Regions from separate parts of the Homo sapiens genome. Here region 2 is linked to region 1. Evidence: fine-mapped QTL for protein levels in blood plasma. A gene starts in region 1. The other region holds a variant in brackets. All regions are shown on one strand. Distances are from middle to middle. Region 1 holds the start of EDA2R (ectodysplasin A2 receptor). Region 2 has its middle 95 kb from the start of EDA2R.

What was found. PIP is the posterior inclusion probability: the model's chance that the variant is causal. Protein levels are from antibody-based Olink assays in UK Biobank. Linkage for the fine-mapping came from a reference panel and not from the study's own genotypes, which makes the PIPs less certain.
Region 2: its variant is fine-mapped to the plasma level of the EDA2R protein (UK Biobank, PIP 0.96).

Annotation. Positions count from the first base shown.
Region 1 is chrX:66,638,600-66,648,755 of GRCh38, reverse strand. EDA2R (ectodysplasin A2 receptor) reads left to right here and starts at 9,678. Exons shown (of 7, transcript NM_021783.5): 1 at 9,678-9,761. RefSeq lists an enhancer at 9,858-10,156.
Region 2 is chrX:66,729,275-66,739,810 of GRCh38, reverse strand. No RefSeq gene overlaps it. Among named protein-coding and RNA genes, the nearest start is that of EDA2R, 95 kb to the right of the region's middle. The variant G/A (reference allele first, on the strand shown) is at 5,358.

The sequences.
Region 1 (10,156 bases):
TGTATTCAGGAAACCCATCTCACGTGCAGAGACACACATAGGCATAAAATAAAGGGATGGAGGAAGATCTACCAAGCAAATGGAAAACAAAAAAAAGGCAGGGGTTGTATTCCTAGTCTCTGATAAAACAGACTTTAAACCAACAAAGATCAGAAGAGACAAAGAAGGCCATTACACAATGGTAAAGGGATAAATTCAACAAGAAGAGCTAACTATCTTAAATATATATGCATCCAATACAGGAGCACCCAGATTCATAAAGCAAGCCCTTAGAGACCTACAAAGAGACTTAGACTCCTACACAATAATAATGGGAGACTTTAACACCCAAATTTAAACAAAAGACAGACCAACGAGACAGAAAGTTAACAAGGATATCCAGGAATTGAACTCAGCTCTGCACCAAGTGGACCTCATAGACATCTACAGAATTCTGCAACCCAAATCAACAGAATATACATTCTTCTCAGCACCACACCGCACTTATTCCAAAATTGACGGCATAGTTGGAAGTAAAGCACTCCTCAGCAAATGTAAAAGAACAGAAATTATAACCAACTGTCTCTCAGACCACAGTGCAATCAAACTAGAACTCAGGATTAAGAAACACACTCAAAGGCGCTCAACTACATGGAAACTGAACAACCTGCTCCTGAATGACTACTGGGTACATAACGAAATGAAGGCAGAAATAAAGATGTTCTTTGAAACCAACGAGAACAAAGACACAACGTACCAGAATCTCTGGGACACATTTAAAGCAGTTTGTAGAGGGAAATTTATACCACTAAATGCCCACAAGAGAAAGCAGAAAAGATCTAAAATTGACACCCTAACATCACAATTAAAAGAACTAGAGAAGCAAGAGGAAACACATTCAAAAGCTAGCAGAAGGCAAGAAATAACTAAGATCAGAGCAGAACTGAAGGAGATAGAGACACAAAAAAAGCTTCAAAGAAACCAATGAATCCAGGAGCTGGTTTTTTGAAAAGATCAACAAAATTAATAGACTGCTAGCAGGACTAAAAAAGAAGAAACGAGAAGAATCAAACAGATGTAATAAAAAGTGATAAAAGGGAGATCACCACCGATCCCACAGAAATACAAACTACCATCAGAGCATACTATAAATACCTGTACGCAAATAAACTATAAAATCTAGAAGAAATGCATAAATTCCTCAACACATACACCCTCCCAACACTAAACAAGGAAGAAGTTGAATCTCTGAATAGACCAATAACAGGTTCTTAATTGAGGCAATAATTGATAGCTTACCAACCAAAAAAAGTCCAGGACCAGATGGATTTACAGCCGAATTCTACCAGAGGTACAAAGAGGAGCTGGTACCATTCCTTCTGAAACTATTCCAATGAATAGAAAAAGAGGGAATCCTCCCTAACTCACTTTATGAGGCCAGCATCATCCTGATACCAAAGCCTGTCAGAGACAAAACCAAAAAAGAGAATTTTAGACCAATTTCCTTGATGAACATTGATGCAAAAATCCTCAATAAAATACTGGCAAACCAAATCCAACAACACATCAAAAAGCTTATCCACCATGGTCAAGTGGGCTTCATCCCTGGGATGCAAGGCTGGTTCAACATATGCAAATCAATAAACATAATCCAGCATATAAATAGAACCAACGACAAAAGCCACATGATTATCTCAATAGATGCAGAAAAGGCCTTTGACAAAATTCAACACCCCTTCATGCTAAAAACTCTCAATAAATTAGGTATTGATGGGATGTATCTCAAAATAATAAGAGCTATTTATGACAAACCCACAGCCAATATCATACTGAATAGGCAAAAACTGGAAGCATTCCCTTTGAAAATCAGCACAAGACAGGGATACCCTCTCTCACCACTCCTATTCAACATAGTGTTGGAAGTTCTGGCCAGGGCAATTAGGCAGGAGAAGGAAATAAAGGGTATTCAATTAGGAAAAGAGGAAGTCAAATTGTCCCTGTTTGCAGATGACATGATTGTATATCTAGAAAACCCCATTGTCTCAGCCCAAAATCTCCTTAAGCTGATAAGCAACTTCAGCAAAGTCTCAGGATACAAAATCAATGTGCAAAAATCACAAGCATTCTTATACACCAATAACAGACAAACAGAGAGCCAAATCATGAGTGAACTCCCATTCACAATTGCTTCAAAGAGAATAAAATACCTAGGAATCCAACTTACAAGGGATGTGAAGGACCTCTTCAAGGAGAACTACAAACCACTGCTCAACGAAATAAAAGAGGATACAAACACATGGAAGAACATTCCATGCTCATGGATAGAAAGAATCAATATCATGAAAATGGCCATACTGCCCAAGGTAATTCATAGATTCAATGCCATCCCCATCAAGCTACCAATGACTTTCTTCACAGAATTGGAAAAAACTACTTTAAAGTTCATATGGAACCAAAAAAGAGCCCACATTGCCAAGTCAATCCTAAGCCAAAGAAGAAAGCTGCAGGCATCATGCTACCTGACTTCAAACTGTACTACAAGGCTACAGTAACCAAAACAGCATGGTACTGGTACCAAAACAGAGATATAGACCAATGGAATAGAACAGAGCCCTCAGAAATAATACGACACATCTATAATTATCTGATCTTTGACAAACCTGATAAAAACAAGAAATGGGGAAAGGATTCCCTGTTTAATAAATGGTGCTGGGAAAACTGGCTAGCCATATGTGGAAAGCTGAAACTGGACCTCTTCCTTACACCTTATACAAAAATTAATTCAAGACGGATTAAAGACTTAAATGTTAAACCTAAAACCATAAAAACCCTAGAAGAAAACCTAGGCAATACCATTCAGGACATAGGCATGGACAAGGACTTCATGTCTAAAACACCAAAAGCAATGGCAACAAAAGCCAAATTTGACAAATGGGATATAATTAAACTAAAGAGCTTCTGCACAGCAAAAGCAACTTCCATCAGAGTGAACAGGCAACCTACAGAATGGGAGAAAATTTTTGCAATCTACTCATCTGACAAAGGCCTAATATCCAGAATCTACAATGAACTCAAACAAATTTACAAGAAAAATCAGACAACCCCATCAACAATGGGCGAAGGATATGAATAGACATTTCTGAAAAGAAGACATTTATGCAGCCAACAGAGGCATGAAAAAATGCTCATCATCACTGGCCATCAGAGAAATGCAAATCAAAACCACAATGAGATACCATCTCACACCAGTTAGAAGGGCGATCACTAAAAAGTTAGGAAACAACAGGTGCTGGAGAGGATGTGGAGAAATGGGGACACTTTTACACTGTTGGTGGGACTGTAAAGTAGTTCAACCATTGTGAAAGTCAGTGTGGCTATTCCTCCGGGATCTAGTACCAGAAATACCATTTGACCCAGCCATCCCATTACTGCATGTATACCCAAAGGTGCATAAATCATGCTGCTATAAAGACACATGCACACGTATGTTTATTGCAGCACTATTCACAGTAGCAAAGGCTTGGAACCAACCCAAATGTCCAACAATGATAGACTGGATTAAGAAAATGTGGCACATATACACCATGGAATACTATGCAGCCATAAAAAATGATGAGTTCATGTCCTTTGTAGGGACATGGATGAAGCTGGAAACCATCATTCTTAGCAAACTATCGCAAGGACAAAAAACCAAACACCACGTGTTCTCACTCATAGGTGGGAATTGAACAATGAGAACACTTGGACACGGGAAGGGGAACATCACACCCGGGGCCTGTTGTGGGGTGGGGGAAGGAGGGAGGGATAGCATTAGGAGATACACCTAATGTAAATGATGAGTTAATGGGTGCAGCACACCAACATGGCACATGTATACATATGTAACAAACCTGCATGTTGTGCACATGTACCCTGAAACTTAAAGTATAATAAAAAAAAGAAAAAAAAAGATGAGAGAAAATGTTTCCTAAAATTTGGCAGTTAAGTGGTCCCCTGTAGCTTTAGGGAGAACAAATGGGGCTAGAAGCCAGATTATAGTAGGTTGGGGAGCTAATGGAAATTAAAGTCATGGAAACAGTTATTAGAGAAAACTCTATCCAGAAATTTGGCTAAGAAAAAAAATGAGACGAGGCTGTTGTTTGAGAAAGAGGAAATGTGGTAGAAGGGTTGATTTTATTTTGTAGTGGGAGGAATTCAAATATGTTTACGAGTTAAAGGGGTAGGCACAGAAGACAGGTAAATAATGATGCCATAGAGAGTGGGGGTAATTGATGGAGAAAGATTCATAAATATCAGGGGAGGCATTCTCTCCTCTTCTTCAAGAGGAAAGGCCAAGATGAATGAAGACAGAGAGAACCTTATAGGAATTAGGGAAGAAGTTATAGGCACTAAATGCCTAATAGAATCTGTTTTATTGATGAAGAAGAAAAGAGTCAATGTTTCTGGGCTAAGAATTCAGTGCTAAAGTAGGAACTTAACCTTTACTTCTAAAGGTAGAGGTTTAGAATAGCTCTTCAGAGAGGATGGAAGGAGCCTCTGATTGGAAGGGAAAGCAAGGATTGTACATTTGAGTGTGACAGTGAATAATTAAGGCATCAGCTATTCTTGAGAATCCTGGGTCAATTGCCACTTATTGGTTGTGGCACTGATAGATGGCATAGATAAGTCACCTATCGTTTCTGTGCCTCAATTTTGTCATCTATAAAATAGGAGTGATGTCATGGTTTTTGCCTCATAGGATTATTGTGATGATTAAATGAGCTATTGCATACAGAACATTTGGCATAGGGCCTGACATATAGAGTTCATCAAGCATTGATCAAGTGTTGGCTATTATTATTATTTTGGGTGTGGGTTTCAATTCCTTTTTAGCCATCTTATTTTTATTGTGGCACACCTGAGGCCTGGGAGCTCATTATAGAAGGATACATTCAAATGTGAACATTTTTCTCCTTGGGCTTATTCAACAGATATATTGATATATATAATATGTAAAAATGTATTGAGCGCTTAAAATACTCTAGGTACAGTTTTGCATGTGGAAATTTGTGAAATGGTATATAAGGTCCCTGCCACATAGGTTCACACTCCAGTGAGAGAAGTTAGAATCAGGCCAGAGGGACAATGGAGGGTGGGAGGAACTCTGTAAAATCCCTGCACTTGAGGGGCAAGTGGAGAATGAGAATCCATAAAATGCTGTAGAGAAATAAGTGAAACTAGAAGACATTAGTTCCATGAAAGTCAAGGGAAGAGAGTCAGAAAGAAAAGAATCCAGACAATGTTGGATGTTTTAGATAATTCAAATAAGAAAACAGAAGAATCCATGGGTTTGATAGTATGAAAATCATGGGTGACCTTGAGAAGAGCAAAATGTAGTGAGTTTGGAAATGAAGAGGTGGAGGTGAGGATATGAAAAGAATTAATCTTAGTTCAGAATGGAAAGACAATTTAGGAGAAAGAGCCAGAGGAAGAAAGACCATGAAGATACAAATAAAGCAAAATGGAATAGACAGGAGTAAACACAGATGGAGACAGGAGGGACAGGAGGAAACTCTGAGGTAAGAAACAGGATGAACTTGAATGTGGAGATGTCAGAAGTTGTTTAGACTTCAAGTTTCGTGCCCTTTTACATTCTCGGTGAAACTGGAGGTGAAGTCATCTGCTAGGGGTTTGGGAGCTGTGTTGAGCACTTGACTTAAGAAGAGTGAGTTTTAAAAGCCATCTTGGGCAAGTGGAATAGAAGATTATTTAAAATGAGAGATAACACTATTGGACTGTGCTAGAATCTAGCTGAAGTTTGAAAATTCCCATGGCTAGAAGTAACTCTTATACCCCAGCTTTCTAATTCAGAAGACCTAAGCCTGTATACACCACTGCAGCAAACATTTATGGCCAAGTTTATCTACACACATCTCACAGGCTAAAGAGAACAAGAAGCTGATATTGTGTTCAGGGACATCCTTAGCAATGTTTGAGTTTACAGGGGTTGCCCCACAGGCCTCAGCATCCCCTTAGTCTTTCAGCTTCTTTTCCTGCCCCCTGGTCCCAGTCTTGAGAGGAGCTATAAGGGCCCCATTCTGCCTGGATAACCATGAAGCTCCTTCATGAAAGGTGGTCCTGCCATTGTTGGACACTAGAATTAGAGGCTACCCAGGATTCTCTGAGACACAGCCAAGGCCAGTATTCCCCTGAGTGACCCTAAGTAACCTCTGAGAGAGAGCTGAGGGGTGGCATCAGAGAGCCCTGAATCTCACTGAGCCCCAGAATCTGTCTGGTCCCAGAGATAAGCAGAGTGGAGGCTGGTCCTGCCTATCCTGCTGTCAGGTTAGGCTGGTTCCAGCAGTAGAATGTAGGTAGAGAAACTCTGTACTGATAGTTCTCAGTTTGGGTTCACAAAGTGACTCCTGTTTATCATAAAAGGAGGGGCTGTGGAAAGCCCCCAAGAAATTAGCTGATCCAAACTTAGTTCTGCTGCACAAGCACATGGAGCTAGAGTGGCTCCCCCACAGAGAGCAGAGTTGAGAGCCTTAACCCTACTCACCACCACACTGCACCGGGGGTCCTGGGGCTATGTTGAGAAAAAGCTCACCTACCCAGTGGATTTCAAAAGGCCTAGGCAATCCCATTAGCTTGTACTAGCTAGGGTATTCAAGAAAGTCCACTTTGATAAAGTGACATTTAAGCAGGGATATGGAGGAAGTGAGAAAAGGAGCCATGCTGATATCTGGGGGAAGAATTGGCTAGGCTGAAGGAGCAGCAAGTGCAAAGACCAGAGTCTTGAGCATGCTTTGAGTGTTGGAAAAAATATCAAGGCCGCCAGTTGGGGTTGGGTATGGTGGTCAAGGCGAGTGGTAAGAGGTGAGATCAGAGATAGAGGGGCAGGTTAGTGAGGATGGGATGGCGTGGGATAGATTGTAGACTATTATAGACCATAGTTAAGGATTTTGGGTTTTCTGCTGAATAAGAAGCCAACCAGTAGAATTGCTTGGACAGACTTAGACTGATGTACTTTTAAAAGGATCATTCTGGTTGCTCTGCTGAGAATTGACTGGAGTGGGGTAAGCATGAGAGCAAGGAGAGCTATTGGAGGATATGGCAATAATTCAGGTGAAAAGTAATCGTGGCTTGCACCAGAGTGGTTGCAGTGAAGGTGCTAAGAAGTTGGTGAAATTCAGAGTTTATCTCTGAGGCAGGAGGCAGAGCTGATAGGATGTGCTGATGGGTTGAATGTGAGGTGTGAGCAAAAGGAGAGGGGAGGATAATTCTAATGATTGTGGCTTCATAGATTATGAAGATAAAATGAATTAATTCATGAAAAAAATTTGAGCAGTGCCTGGCAAGTGCTTAGTGAGGGCCAGCTAACTGTTATAGTATTATTGGACAAGTTATGGTGGAGGACAGTGGTTTCATATTTGCTGCTTATAATCACTTTCCACAATAGCTTGTGGACTCTGACATATCCCTGGTACCTCTATCTCAAGTTTCCTCCTGTACTTCCAGGCAGAATCACAGAGTACAAGGAGCCTCTTCATCTACAAAATGAGGATGGTAACCTCAACCTCATAGAATGGTTGTAAGGTATAAAGGGACACATATGCATGATTTATAGGTGCTCAGTAAATGTTATTCTTGTCCACCTTCTAAACCTTTGCTACTAAAACTATGGTCTGTGGCCCAGCACCATCAATATCACCTGGAAGCAGTTAGAAAATCAGAGTCTTAGTCCCACACCACAGCTGCTAACTCAGAATCTGTGTTTTAACAAGATCCTTAGGTGATTTGTGTGCACATTAATATGAGAGAAGCACGGCTCTAGCGTTTCAAGGTCATCCAGTCCAACAGTCTCTTCAGGATACAGATGCAGAAAGGAAAACTAAGAGAGAGGAAGAGATTTACATGATGTTACACTTAGTTTTGTCAAGACATCTAAATTCCAAGCTAGGGTTCTTTACACTAAAGTTTCAAAACTGTCTGTAATTCAGCTTCTCTGGGTAGGAAAGGATGGAGAAAAAGAAGAGGTCCTGTTTTCTAGGAAAGGACAGAACAGAATTAGGAGGTACCCAGGGTAGCTATTTTCATTTGAATCTCACAGATGATTTCAGAGGTCCCTAAATTGCATTCATGTATTTATTTATATTTAATAAACACTTCTATACCACTACGTCCCAGAAATCATTCTAAGCTCCTTACGCATATGAACACTATTTTGTATATTAACTCATATAATACCTAAAACAATCCTATGAGTAAGGGATTGTTATTTTCCCCACTTTACAGAAGAGAATCCTGAGCCACAGAGTGGTTAAGTAACTTGCCTTAGGTCACAAAGCTAGTAAGGGGCAGACCTAGGATTCCAATTCTGGCAGTTTTCCCTTCTACTAGGCCTGAGCCCACAGTAGCCTATTCTGGTCTTAACTCTAGCTAGGGGACAGATATGAAGTTCATTTAGGACTTTTTCTACTTCAGCTTAGGGCCTATTCAGCCCTTTCCCACCAAAGGCTTTTCAGCTGCTTTACTGAGACTCCACCCTGAGCTGGCATATAGCCTCTGCCCAGTACAGGAGGGGTCCCTCAGAGACTGATAATGGCTCATTTCTTGGTCCTCTCCCCCATACCTTGGCTCAAGCTTTTCTTTTCCTCTACCCATTAGGCTATTTCCTCTTTGACCTCTTTTAAAAGCTCCTAATCTATTGAAAAGCATTTGCTTTCCTTGTCAGACTCTTTTTTACTCCTTCTTCCTACTGGCCCCCAAACCCTTCCAGTCTGCACCTCATAGTTTGGCCCTTAATTCTCTGTCTCTGTCCGGTCTACTTTATCTTCCCAGCTCTGCAAACTCTTCAAGGTCAGGGACTAGTAACGTTTCGGGATTTATCCACCGCTGCCTCTGAGATCATGGATTAATAAACTCCCAAAGTGTCATTGTTTGAAGTGCCCTTAGAGACTACGTAGCTCAACCCCCTCCTTGTACAGACACTCAGGGGCCCAGAGAAGATGGATGATCAAAGCTGAGTGCCGAATCCAATTTTCCTTTATTTTTAGTGGTCTTTTCCCTGCTTCATGTCTGCTCTCTTCCTCCTGTCACAATCCTATCTACCCTTCTGAATGGAGGAGTATTTTTTTGAGGCAGATGCAGAGCTGGAAAGCGGCTTCTCCATGTGTCTGAAAATTTTGGCTTTTCCAACAATAATTTTCCCTGTCAAACTCCAAGCCTGCTAAGTCATGAATAAACTTTGATGAGCTGAGCTGCATTCAGCTGTGAAAGAGACAACTTGATGCTTTCTCTGGACCCCACTCCCTGGCCCTCTACTCTCTGGCCCCCGCTTCAGTCCCAGGAGATTTGCAGCTCCTGCCATACCAGTGGCTGGGTCACTGTTCTTCAGCCTCACATTGTTCCTCTCAAAGGCAGTTTCTTTTCGTAGCCACGCCTAGGCACTCAAACAGTCCAATAGCTGCTCTAGGAACTTCACGGGGGCGGAAGAGGTAAGCTTACCGTGAAAGGAGGGTTTGGGCTGTTGTTGCTACACGTGGATGTGAAATGAGTCAAGCGGAACTTTGATTACAAGGAATTTCATATACTGTGAGTGTGTATGCAGGCTGGGGGCTGAGGGGCGGGGGCTGAGGGGCGGGGCTGATGGGCGGGTCTGAGGGGCGGGGGCTGAGGGGCGCGGGGTGAAGGGCGGGGGGTGACGGGAGGGGGCTGGGTGAGATGTGTGCTCTGCGCTGAGGTGGATTTGTACCGGAGTCCCATTTGGGAGCAAGAGCCATCTACTCGTCCGTTACCGGGTGAGTGTGGGAACACCCCCTGGTGTGGCAAGGCGGCTGGGACCTGCGGCATCTAGGTGCAGAAGTACAGAATCAGGTCAGGATGATCCTGCTAGGGTACCGCAAAATCAGAACAATTGGGAAGGCGCCCTGTGGCTGGCTGTCAGTCCATCCATTTGTGTCCGGAGAGCGCTTTCTGAGGTATCAGGGATCTGGGCTGACATCTCTAGGATCTTGGCGAGCCATTTCCTGTAGGCTCTTACTGGACCTGCATTGCCTCTGAGAACATGCCTGGACGTGTCCAACAACCTTGAGCATCTAGGGTTGGGAGATAAAGAAGAGAAGGAGGCTGGGTGTTAGTGAAGGCGGGGACAGTGGATCAGACTTGTGGAGCATCCTGAGGAAAGCAGAACTGC
Region 2 (10,536 bases), 91 kb before region 1:
CTAATATCCAGAATCTATAAGAAACATAAGCAATTGAACAAGCAAAAACTAAATAACACTGTCAAAAAATGGGCAAAGACAGGAATGGACAATTCTCAAAAGAAGATATACAAGTAGCCATCAAACATATGAAAAAATGCTCCACATCACTAATCATCAGAGAAATGCAAATGAAAATCACAAAGAGATACCATCTCACATCAGTCAGAGGGGCTATTATTTAAAAGTAAAAAAAAAAAAGATGCTGGCGAGGCTGTGGTGAAAAGGAAACAATTACACACTGTTAGTTGGAATATGAATTAGTTCAGCCCTCGTGAAAAGCAGTTTGGAGATTTCTCAAAGAACTTAGAACTACCATTCAACCCAGCACTCCCATTACTGGGTATATATCCAAAAGAAAACAAATAATTTTACCAAAAAAACACATGCATTCTCATGTACATCACAGTACTATTCATGACAGAAAAGACACAGAATCACCCTAGGTGCTCATCAAAGGTGGACCATAAAAATAGATGAAATCATGTCCTTTGCTGCATCCAAAGCATGGATGAAGTTGGAGACCATTATCATAAGCAAATTAGCATAGAAACATAAAACCATGTTCTCACTTATAAGTGGGTGCTAAACGATGGATACTGATGAACGTAATGATGGCAACAATAAACAATGGAGACTACTGGAAGTGGGAGGGAGGGAGATGGGCAAGAGTTGAAAAACTAACTGTTGCGTACTATGCTCATTACCTGGGTGACTGGGCCATTCTTACTCCAAAACTCAGCACCACACAATACACCCAGGTACCAAACCTGCACATGTACTTCCTGAATCTAAAATAAAAGTTGAAAAAAAAAGTAGAAAGATTTAAAATAAGTAACATAAAAATTCACCTCAAAAACTAGGAAAGAAAAAACAAATCAAACCAAAAGATAATGGAGGAAAAGAAACAATTACAAACAGAGTAGAAATAAACAAAATTGAGGCTAAAAAATGCAAAAGATCAACAAAATGAAAAGCTGTGGTTTTTGAAAGCATAAACAAAATTAACAAACCATTAGCTAGACTAAGAAAAAAGAGGTAAGACCCAGATAAATAAAATCAGAAATGAAAAAGAAAACATCCCAACAGATATGAAAGAAATGCAAAGGATCATTAGAGTCTATTATGAACAACTATATACCAACAAATTAGAAAATGCATAAATTCTTGGATACATACAACTTACCAGTTAGAACAAAGAAAAGATATAAAACCTGAACAGTCCCATAATGATTAATGACATTTAATCATTAACAAAAGGTCTCCCAAGAAAGGAATGCCCAGGGACAGATTACTTAATTGTTGAATTCCACCAAACTTTTAAAGAAGAATGAATACCACTTCTTCTTAAACTGTTCCAAAGAATTGAAGGGGAAATACTTCTAAACTCATTCTATGAAACCAGCATAACCCTTATACCAGAACCAGATAGAACCCAACAACAACAACAAAAACTACAGACCAATATCTCAGATGAACATAGATGCAACAATCCTCAACAAAACACTAGCAAACCAAATCCAAGAGCACATCAAAAAGATAATACACCATGATCAAGTTGTATTTACCCAAGTGATGTAAAGGTAGTTCAATATATACAAATCAACAAACATGTTACATAACATCAACAGAATGAAGGATAAAAACCATATGATCACCTCAATAGATGAAGAAAAATAGATAAAATGCAACATTCCTTCATTATAAAAACTTCACAAATTAGTTGTAAAAGAAATATATCTCAACATAGTAAAGGCCACAAAGATTTTCTTCTAAGAACTGGAGGAAGACAAGGATGCCAACTTTTACTACTCTTATGAATCATCATATTGAAAGTCTTAGCCAGAGCAATTAAGCAAAATAAATAAATAAAGGTAATCCAATTGAAAAAGGAGGAAGTCAAATTGTCACTCATTGCAGATAGCATAATTTTATATATAGAAAACCTAAACACTACACCAAAAAACTCTTAAAACTGATAAACAAATTCAGTAAATTTGCAGAATAGAAAATCATCATACAGAAATCAGTATCAATTTTATACACCAAAAAGGAATTAACTGAAAAAGAAATCAGGAAAACAATTCAATGTATACTAGCTAGAAAAAAATTACCTAGGAATAAATTTAATTGAGGAGGTGAAAGGTCTCTACAAGACAAACTGTAAAATACTGATGAAAGAAATTGAAGGGTACGAAAAAAAATGAAAATATAGTCTATGTTCATGGACTTGAAGAAATAACATATTAAAATAACCATACTACCCAAAACAATCTACAGATTCAATGCAATCGCTATCAAACTACCAATAACATTCTTCACAGAAATAGAAGAAAAACATTTCTAAATTTCTTGAAACTACAAAAGACACTGAATAGCCTTAGAAATCCTGAACAAAAAACAAACAAACAAAAACAAAACAAAGGTGGAGGCATCGCATTACCAGGTATCAAAATATATTATAAAGCTATAGTAACTACAACAGCACAGCACTGTCATAAAAAAACCAGACATAGGCCAACAAAATAAAATACAGAACCCAGAAATAAACCCATGTAGTTACTACTAAATGACTTTCGAAAAAGGTGTCAAGAACCTTCATTAGGAAAAAGACAGTCTCTTCAATAAATGGTGCTGAAAAATTGGTTATCCACACATAGAAAAAATGAAACTAGACCTACCTTTTACCTTATAAAAAATCAATTCAAAAATCTTCAGGTCATTTGTCTGGGGATTTTTTTTTTTTTTTTTTTTTTGAGATGGAGTCTCACTCTGTCACCCGGGCTGGAGTGCAGAGGCACAATCTCAGCTCACTGCAACCTCCCTGGTTCAAGAGATTCTCCTACCTCAGCCTCCCTAGTAGCTGGGTTTACAGGCATGTACCATCACACCTAGCTAATTGTTTTTATTTTTTATTTTTTAGTAAAGACGGGATGTCACTGTATTGGCCAGGCTGGTCTCGATCTCCTGACGTCAAGTGATCCACCTGCCTCAGTCTCCCATAGTGCTGAGATTACAGGTATGAGCCACCGTGCCTGAATATTTTATAAATATGACCTCAAAGCACAGGCAACAAAAACAAGAATAGACAAATAGAATTCTATCAAACTATAAGTTTTCTTCACTACAAAGAAAACAATCATTAGAGTGGAGAAGAATGAAAGAAAATGTTTGCAAACTATTCATTCAACAAGGTAGTCATATCCAGAATATAGAAGGAACTCAAACAATTCCAAAGCAAATAATAATAATAATTCAATTTAAAATGGGCAAGTAATCTGAATGGACATTTCTCTAAAGAAGACATCCAAATGGACAACAAATATATGAAAAAAAAAAAAACCTCTTCAACATCATTAATCATCAGGGAAATGTATGTCAAAACCACAATGAGATATCTTATTTTTCCAGTCAGAATGCCTATTGTCAAAAATTCCAAAATTAACAATTCCTGGTGAGTATATGAGGAAAAGGGAACTTTTATATACTGTTCATGGGAATGTAAACTAGAACAGGAATTATAGGTAACAGTATGGCCATTCCTCAAAAAAACTAAAAATAGAAATAAAATATGATCCAGTCATCCCATTACTGGGTATATACCCAAAGTAAAGGAAATCAGTATATGAAGGAGATATTATGCCACCATGTTTACTGCAGTACTGTTCATAGAAGCCAAGGTATGGAATCAATGTAAGTATTCATCAACATGCATAGAGAAAAAAATGTGGTATATATACAGAATGGAATACTATTCAGCCATTTAAAAAGAATGAAATCCTCTCATTGGTGACCACATGGATGAGCCTGGAGGACATTACATTAAATGAAATAAGCCAGGGAGGGAAATACAAATAATACATGTTTTCTCTCATATGCAGAACCGAAAAAAGTTGATCTCATAGAAGTAAAGAGTAGAATAGTGGTTACTGGAAGCTGAAAGTGTAGTGAGAAGAGGGGATAGGAAGCAATTGATTAAAGGATACAAAATTTAACCTAGAAGTAGAAATAAATTCTAGTGTTCTATAGCACTGTAGGGTGTCTGTAGCCAAGAATAATTTATTACATATTTTTAAATGGCTAGAAGAGAGAATTTTGAAAGTTTTCAACCAAAATCAATGATAAATGCTTGAGGTGATGGGTATGTTAATTATCCTGATTTGATCACTATACATTGTATCTACTGAAAGGCACTATGTACCCCATTAATATGTATAATTTATGTCATTTAAAATATATAAAATATTATTTTAAAGAAAATGAGTAACAGTCATGATGAGACATTTTATTGAAGAGGATAAACAGATAAAAAGTGAATATATGAGCCAGATGCAGTGGCTCATGCCTGTAATTCCAGCACTTTGAGAGGCTGAGGTTGGAGGATCACTTGAGGACAGGAGTTCAAGACCAGCCTGGGCAAAAAAGAGAGACCCTATCTCTACATTTTTTAAAAAAAATTAACCAGGTGTGATGGCGTGCATCTGTAGAACTAGTTACTTAGGAGGCTGAAGTGGAAGGATTGCTTGTGCCCAGGTATTTGAGGCTGCAGTGAGCTATGATCATGTCAGTGCACTCCAACCTGGGTGACACAGCTAGACCCTGTCTCTATAAAATAAATAAATAAGTAAATAAATAAATAAATATTTTAAAATGCACACATAAAAATATGTTTAGCATAATTGGGCAATAGGTAAATGCAAATTAAAATTCTACTGTGATATCACTACACACCTAACAGTAAAGGTAAAGTAAAAACATAATGACAATACCAGATGCTGGTGAAGATACAAATTGAATCTTTCCCATATGGCTTGTGAGAATATAAAAAAATAAACCAACTCTGACTGGCAGTTAAACAAACTTAAAGAAAACCTATGCATATATTTACCAAATGACATAGCATTTGGACTCCTGAATATTTACCCCAGATAAATGAAACTTTATATCTACATAGAAAACTGTACATAAAGGTTCATATTAGCTACATTGGTAATAACCCCAAACTGGTTAAACAAACCGTGCTGCACACATAAATTATGGAGTACTATTCAGCAATAAGAGGGAATGAACTATAGTTACATAAGATAATTTTGATGAATCTACAGGGAATTATGCTAAGTAAAAAATGCCAATCCACTGAGGTAGAGGTTGTTCAATGGAGAAACCACCCGAAATAATCAAGTGATTAATGTGCCATCTGCTGACTGAAGTTGACTGTTCTATTATTTTGACCAAGCTACAGGAAACATAGTTGGAGATCATTTGCATAAAGGTGATGAGTACTGGATAAAAGGCATGGCATTGAAGTCACAAACCTG[G/A]GAGCTGCCCCCACATCTGAACTGTTGCCAAGTCTGGTCAGTCCTATCCTGCCACTTTGTTAGTAGAGGTACATGACATCTCTTGCCTGGGTTACTGCAACAACCTTTTATCTTGTTTTCCTGTCTCTGCTCTCAATTTTCCTTAACCAATCTCTACAAAGAAGCCAGAGTGACCTTTTTTACACACTAATAACTCAAAATACATTAGTGATTCCGCATTACCTTAAAGATAAAATTCAAACTCCTTGGATAGCGTATGAGGCCCTCATGGCCTTGTCCCATTCCACCTCTTCAACTTCATATCACACAGTTCCCCTATAACTTAGAGTTGGTAATCCCCTTCCTGCCCTCCTACTTGTCCCTCCAAATTGCCATTTGCATATACTGCTCTCTCAGCCTGAAGTGTCTTTTCTTCCAATTATGTATGTTTAATTAATCCTTTAAGTCTTAGTTCTTACACTTCCTTCCTTGATTACTACCATGAAGCAAGGAGTCTTACCAGACTATCTCCATCTGGAGGAAAAAAGAACTACAAAATATCCAAAAGACTTATTCTTTTCTACATGATTGCAGTGTTAAAGTACAATTAACTTGTATTTCTATAATTATTTGTATTATAGAGACAGCTGTACAAAATTGTTAGTATAGGAAGGATACTGTGGATATCAGAAGGTATGATGGTTACATAGTAATGTTAGTATTCCTTGTGTACACCTGTTAGTTTTGCAATCTGTTTTCTTAAGTATTTGTTTAAATTTTTGTGGGTACATAATAGGTGTTTGTATTTATGGGGCAATGTGATATTTTGATACAGGCATACAGTGTGAACTAAGCACATCATGGAGAATGGGGTTTCCATCCTCTCAAGCATTTATCTTTGCAATCTGTTTTGAATTATTATAGTTCTAACTCACTGTTATTTAGAGTGGAATTAGATGAGAGGATATTTATGAAATGAAAAAAGGCTGTTACATTGTAGTGAAGTAAACAGGCAAAGGGCTGTAGACTTTCATATTAAACCTAGGGCGTATAGAAATTTTTAACTTAGTGTTGTGTTTATAGGCATGTCTGTTTTTTTTTTTTTTACAAAAATAAATTTGGACGCTAAGAGCAAGCACTCTCCAATATGTACCAGCACAATTTTTTGGAGTGATGATGGATACTGCTCCTTTGTATATCATCAATTGACTTAATACCGGTGTGATTCAAGTGTAGATTAAAGCTTACAATGATACTGATGTGGTGTCTTATGTTACAGATGTTAAAATAACTGATAGCATTAGAAGACTCTTGACAAGAAAAAGAAAACATTACCGATGCCTTACTATAACACTATTTCTAATTTGTACAACACTTTGACAAAGCAGTTTCACTGAATCTCACTAAAACCTTATGGGCATTGTAATCTTCATTTTACAAACGAGAAAACTGAAGGTCAGAGAGGAGAGCATGGAACTAGTAGGGGATCACACAAACAAGAAGTTGAGCTGGGACCAGAATAAAATGCTTTTGACTCCCAGTTTAGTGGTCTTCTCATTACACTGCTTTACATCTGATATTGATAAGGATTTTCTAAAAGATAAAATTATTACTTTTTAAACAGCTGCTTGGCTTTTGATTTACCCATTAAGTTTACAAAATAGAAAACAATTATGCTACTGTCTTCCATATTATACTTAACCACATCTCTCTCAATTTTTAGAGAAGAGAGGCAAAACCATTAATAAATAAAATAAGTTATGATATATGATAATAATGAGCTTCAGACTCATTATTTGATCAGTGCTGTGACACACAAAGCTATATGTACATCTTTGACTCCACCTCTATCAATGCCTCATGATTATTCTTATAGAAGACTCTCACTTTAATAAGAAAAATCAAATAACATTACATATTTATTATTACTACATTAAAACCCAGAACTGTCTTATTAACTTTGCAGTGATTCTTATTATTAAAAATATGAAGATACAAGTCTGCATGTAAAAGGTTAAATTTTTCATGACCTGCAAATCTTTCTTATTAGAATATTTTCATTTCTAGCTATCCAGAGGAAATATATTATTACTTGATTGAAATTGACTGAAGCCTATCAGCAAACTCTAAATGGCAATTCAACAAATATTTCCTGAGTTCTTACTATAAATAAGGCATTGAGCTAGATTGTGAGGGATGTAATCTTTTATAAGAAATAAATCATGCTCTTGAGATGTTGACTTTTTTAAACACCTATTATTATCAAGTATACTTTACCAGGGTCCATGAGTTACTTATCTCAGTGCTCTTCTCCAGTCTCCTTTTAACTGAGTTTCTTGAATTTTAGTATATTCTCACTAAATGGCATTTTTTCTAGAAACCAATTCAACAAGGAATTGGAAAACTCATTCTTTTTATTCAGCTACCTAAAAATAGAGGATAATACACGCCTCCATAAACAACTTAAAAATAGTCAACATAGAAGTACAATATAATATGCCAGAATACAGGAAGACTTCCTAAAGGAGAAAAAGATTTTAAAGTAGGAAATAGACAGTCCTTATATGTGATCATATTCAGAAATATTTAAAAAAGAGACATACAATAAAAATTAAAAGTTGGGAATGTGAGAATTATCAAAGCTTGAATTCAAATCCAGACTTCCATCACTTACTATTTATGTGCCCTTGATAGATGCCCTTATTCCCTGTTTTAGTTTGCTCATGGTAACATTAAGGGTTGGGAGTCACGCTAATAGGAGTGAGCGTTAAAGCTAATAAAACAAAATCACTACCATTTATTAAGCATGTGAGAAACTCAGCCTGTAAGCCCTATAGTTACTGATTACCTATAATCCACAGAAGGGGGCAGTATAGCATAATAAATCAGATTGTGAGCTCCTGTTAGAGACTTGGCACTGAAGGATTACAAAGCCTTGAAATGGACCACTTGGGACATGACCAGTGAGCACCAGAAGGCAGCCATGAGGGACTGCTGAAGACTACATAACCCATTTTTTTTTTCTGGACTACTTAAACCTGGTTTAAGCCTGGCAGTTCTGTGTAATGTTAGAAAGCTGCAAGGAAAAAAAAAAAAAAAAAGACTGACTTTTGATTTCCCACCAATCTTGCCTGGGGAACTGAGACATTTACATACTACTTACCTGGTTTCAAACATTATTGTAAGTATTTTACATAAATAACTCATTTAATCTTCACATCAGCCTTACTATTGTTCTTCCATTTCACAAATGAGGAAACTGAGGCTTAGAGAGGTGAAGTCACTTGCCCAAAGTCACACAACTAGAAAGTGGTAATGCTGGAATTTGAACTCAGCAGAAAAACTAGATCTAGAGTCTGGCTTTTAGTCACAAAGCAAAACAACACAAATGTATGGGCTAAAAGAGTATGGCCTCTGGAATTAGACTGCCTGAGTTCCTATTGAAGCTCTGCTCTTTGCCAGCTGTGTGATGTTAGTCAAGTTACCTCATTTCTCTGTCCATCGGTTTTCTCACCTGTAAAATAGAGATAATAATAGTACATGCTTCAGAGAGATGCTGAAAAGAGTCAATGAGATAAACCTTATAAGTGTGCTAAGGGCTGTCTCTGACACACACTCTGCTAATAGATGTTGTCTATTCAAGTACATAAAGAGAGACGAAGAGCAAAACTTTGTGGAATTTCTTAATCAATGAAGTAAACAGACAACCTACAGAATAGAATAACATATTTGCAAATTAGGCATCCAACAAAAGACTAATATCCAGAATCTACAAGGAGCTCAAACAACTGAACAAGAAACAAACACAAATAACCAATTAAAAAGTGGGCAAAATACATGAACAGACATTTTTCAAAAGAAAGCACATAAGTGGCCAACATAAACATAGGAAAAATTTTATCCCATTCTGTAGGTTACCTGTTCACTCTGACGATAGTTTCTTTTGTTGTGCAGAAGCTCTTTAGTTTAATTAGATCCAATTTGTAAATTCTGGCTTTTGTTGCTATTGCTTTTGGTGTTTTAGTCATGAAGTCTTTGCCCATGCCTATGTCTTGAATGGGATGAACGCTTTTACACTGTTATCGGGAGTGTAAATTAATTCAACCATTGTGGAAGACAGTGTGGTGATTCCTCAAGTATCTAGAACCAGAAATAACATTTGACCCAGCAATTCCATTACTGGGTATATACTCAAAGGATTATAAATCATTCTACTATAAAGACACATGCACATGTATGTTTATTGCAACACTATTTACAATAGCAAAGACTTGGAACCAAGCCAAATGTCCATCAATGATAGACTGGATAAAGAAAATGTGGCACATACACACCATGCAATACTATGCAGCCATAAAAAAGGATGAGTCCATGTCCTTTGCAGGGACATGGATGAAACTGGAAACCATCATTCTCAGCAAACTAACACAGGAGCAGAAAACCAAACACCACATGTTCTCCCTCATAAGTGGGAGTTGAACAGTGAGAACACATGAAAACAGGGAGGGAAACATCACACACTGGAGCCTGTCGGGGTGGGGGAAGAGGAGGGAGAGCATTAGGACAAATACCTAATGCATGAGGGGCTTAAAACCTAGATGATGGGTTGATGGGTGCAGCAAACCACCATGGCACATGTATACCTGTGTAACAAACCTGCACATTCTGCACATGTATCCCAGAACTTAAAGTAAAATTAAAAAAGGAAAACATGCTCAACATCACTAATCATCAGAGAAGAGCAAATGAAAACAACGAGGTACCATCTTATGCCAGTCAGAATGTCTATTAAAAAGTCAGCACAGCTGTTATCTTCATTTTATAGATAAAGAAACTGAGTCTGAAACAGGTTAAGTGCATTGCCTAAGATGACATAGGAAGGATTTAGAGAGGTAAAGATGTGAAACCAGAAAGTCTGGCTCTACAGTTCTGCATTATTGTTATACTATGTTGTCCCTGGCCCGGAGCCCCAACCCCTAAGGCAAGGATTCACCAAATTCTTTGATGAAAGCTATGGACCTTCTCTCCCTACAAGTGCAGAGAAATTTACGTTTTTATTTTTATATACTATTTCAAGGAATTCACTTCCTGACCTTCACCACTGCTACAAACCCTTGTGTATTTCCGGTAGGAATCTCAGATGAAAACTCCTAGCTTTAAAGTTTAAATTCCACCATTCTTAAACTCTGACTCGGCCTCA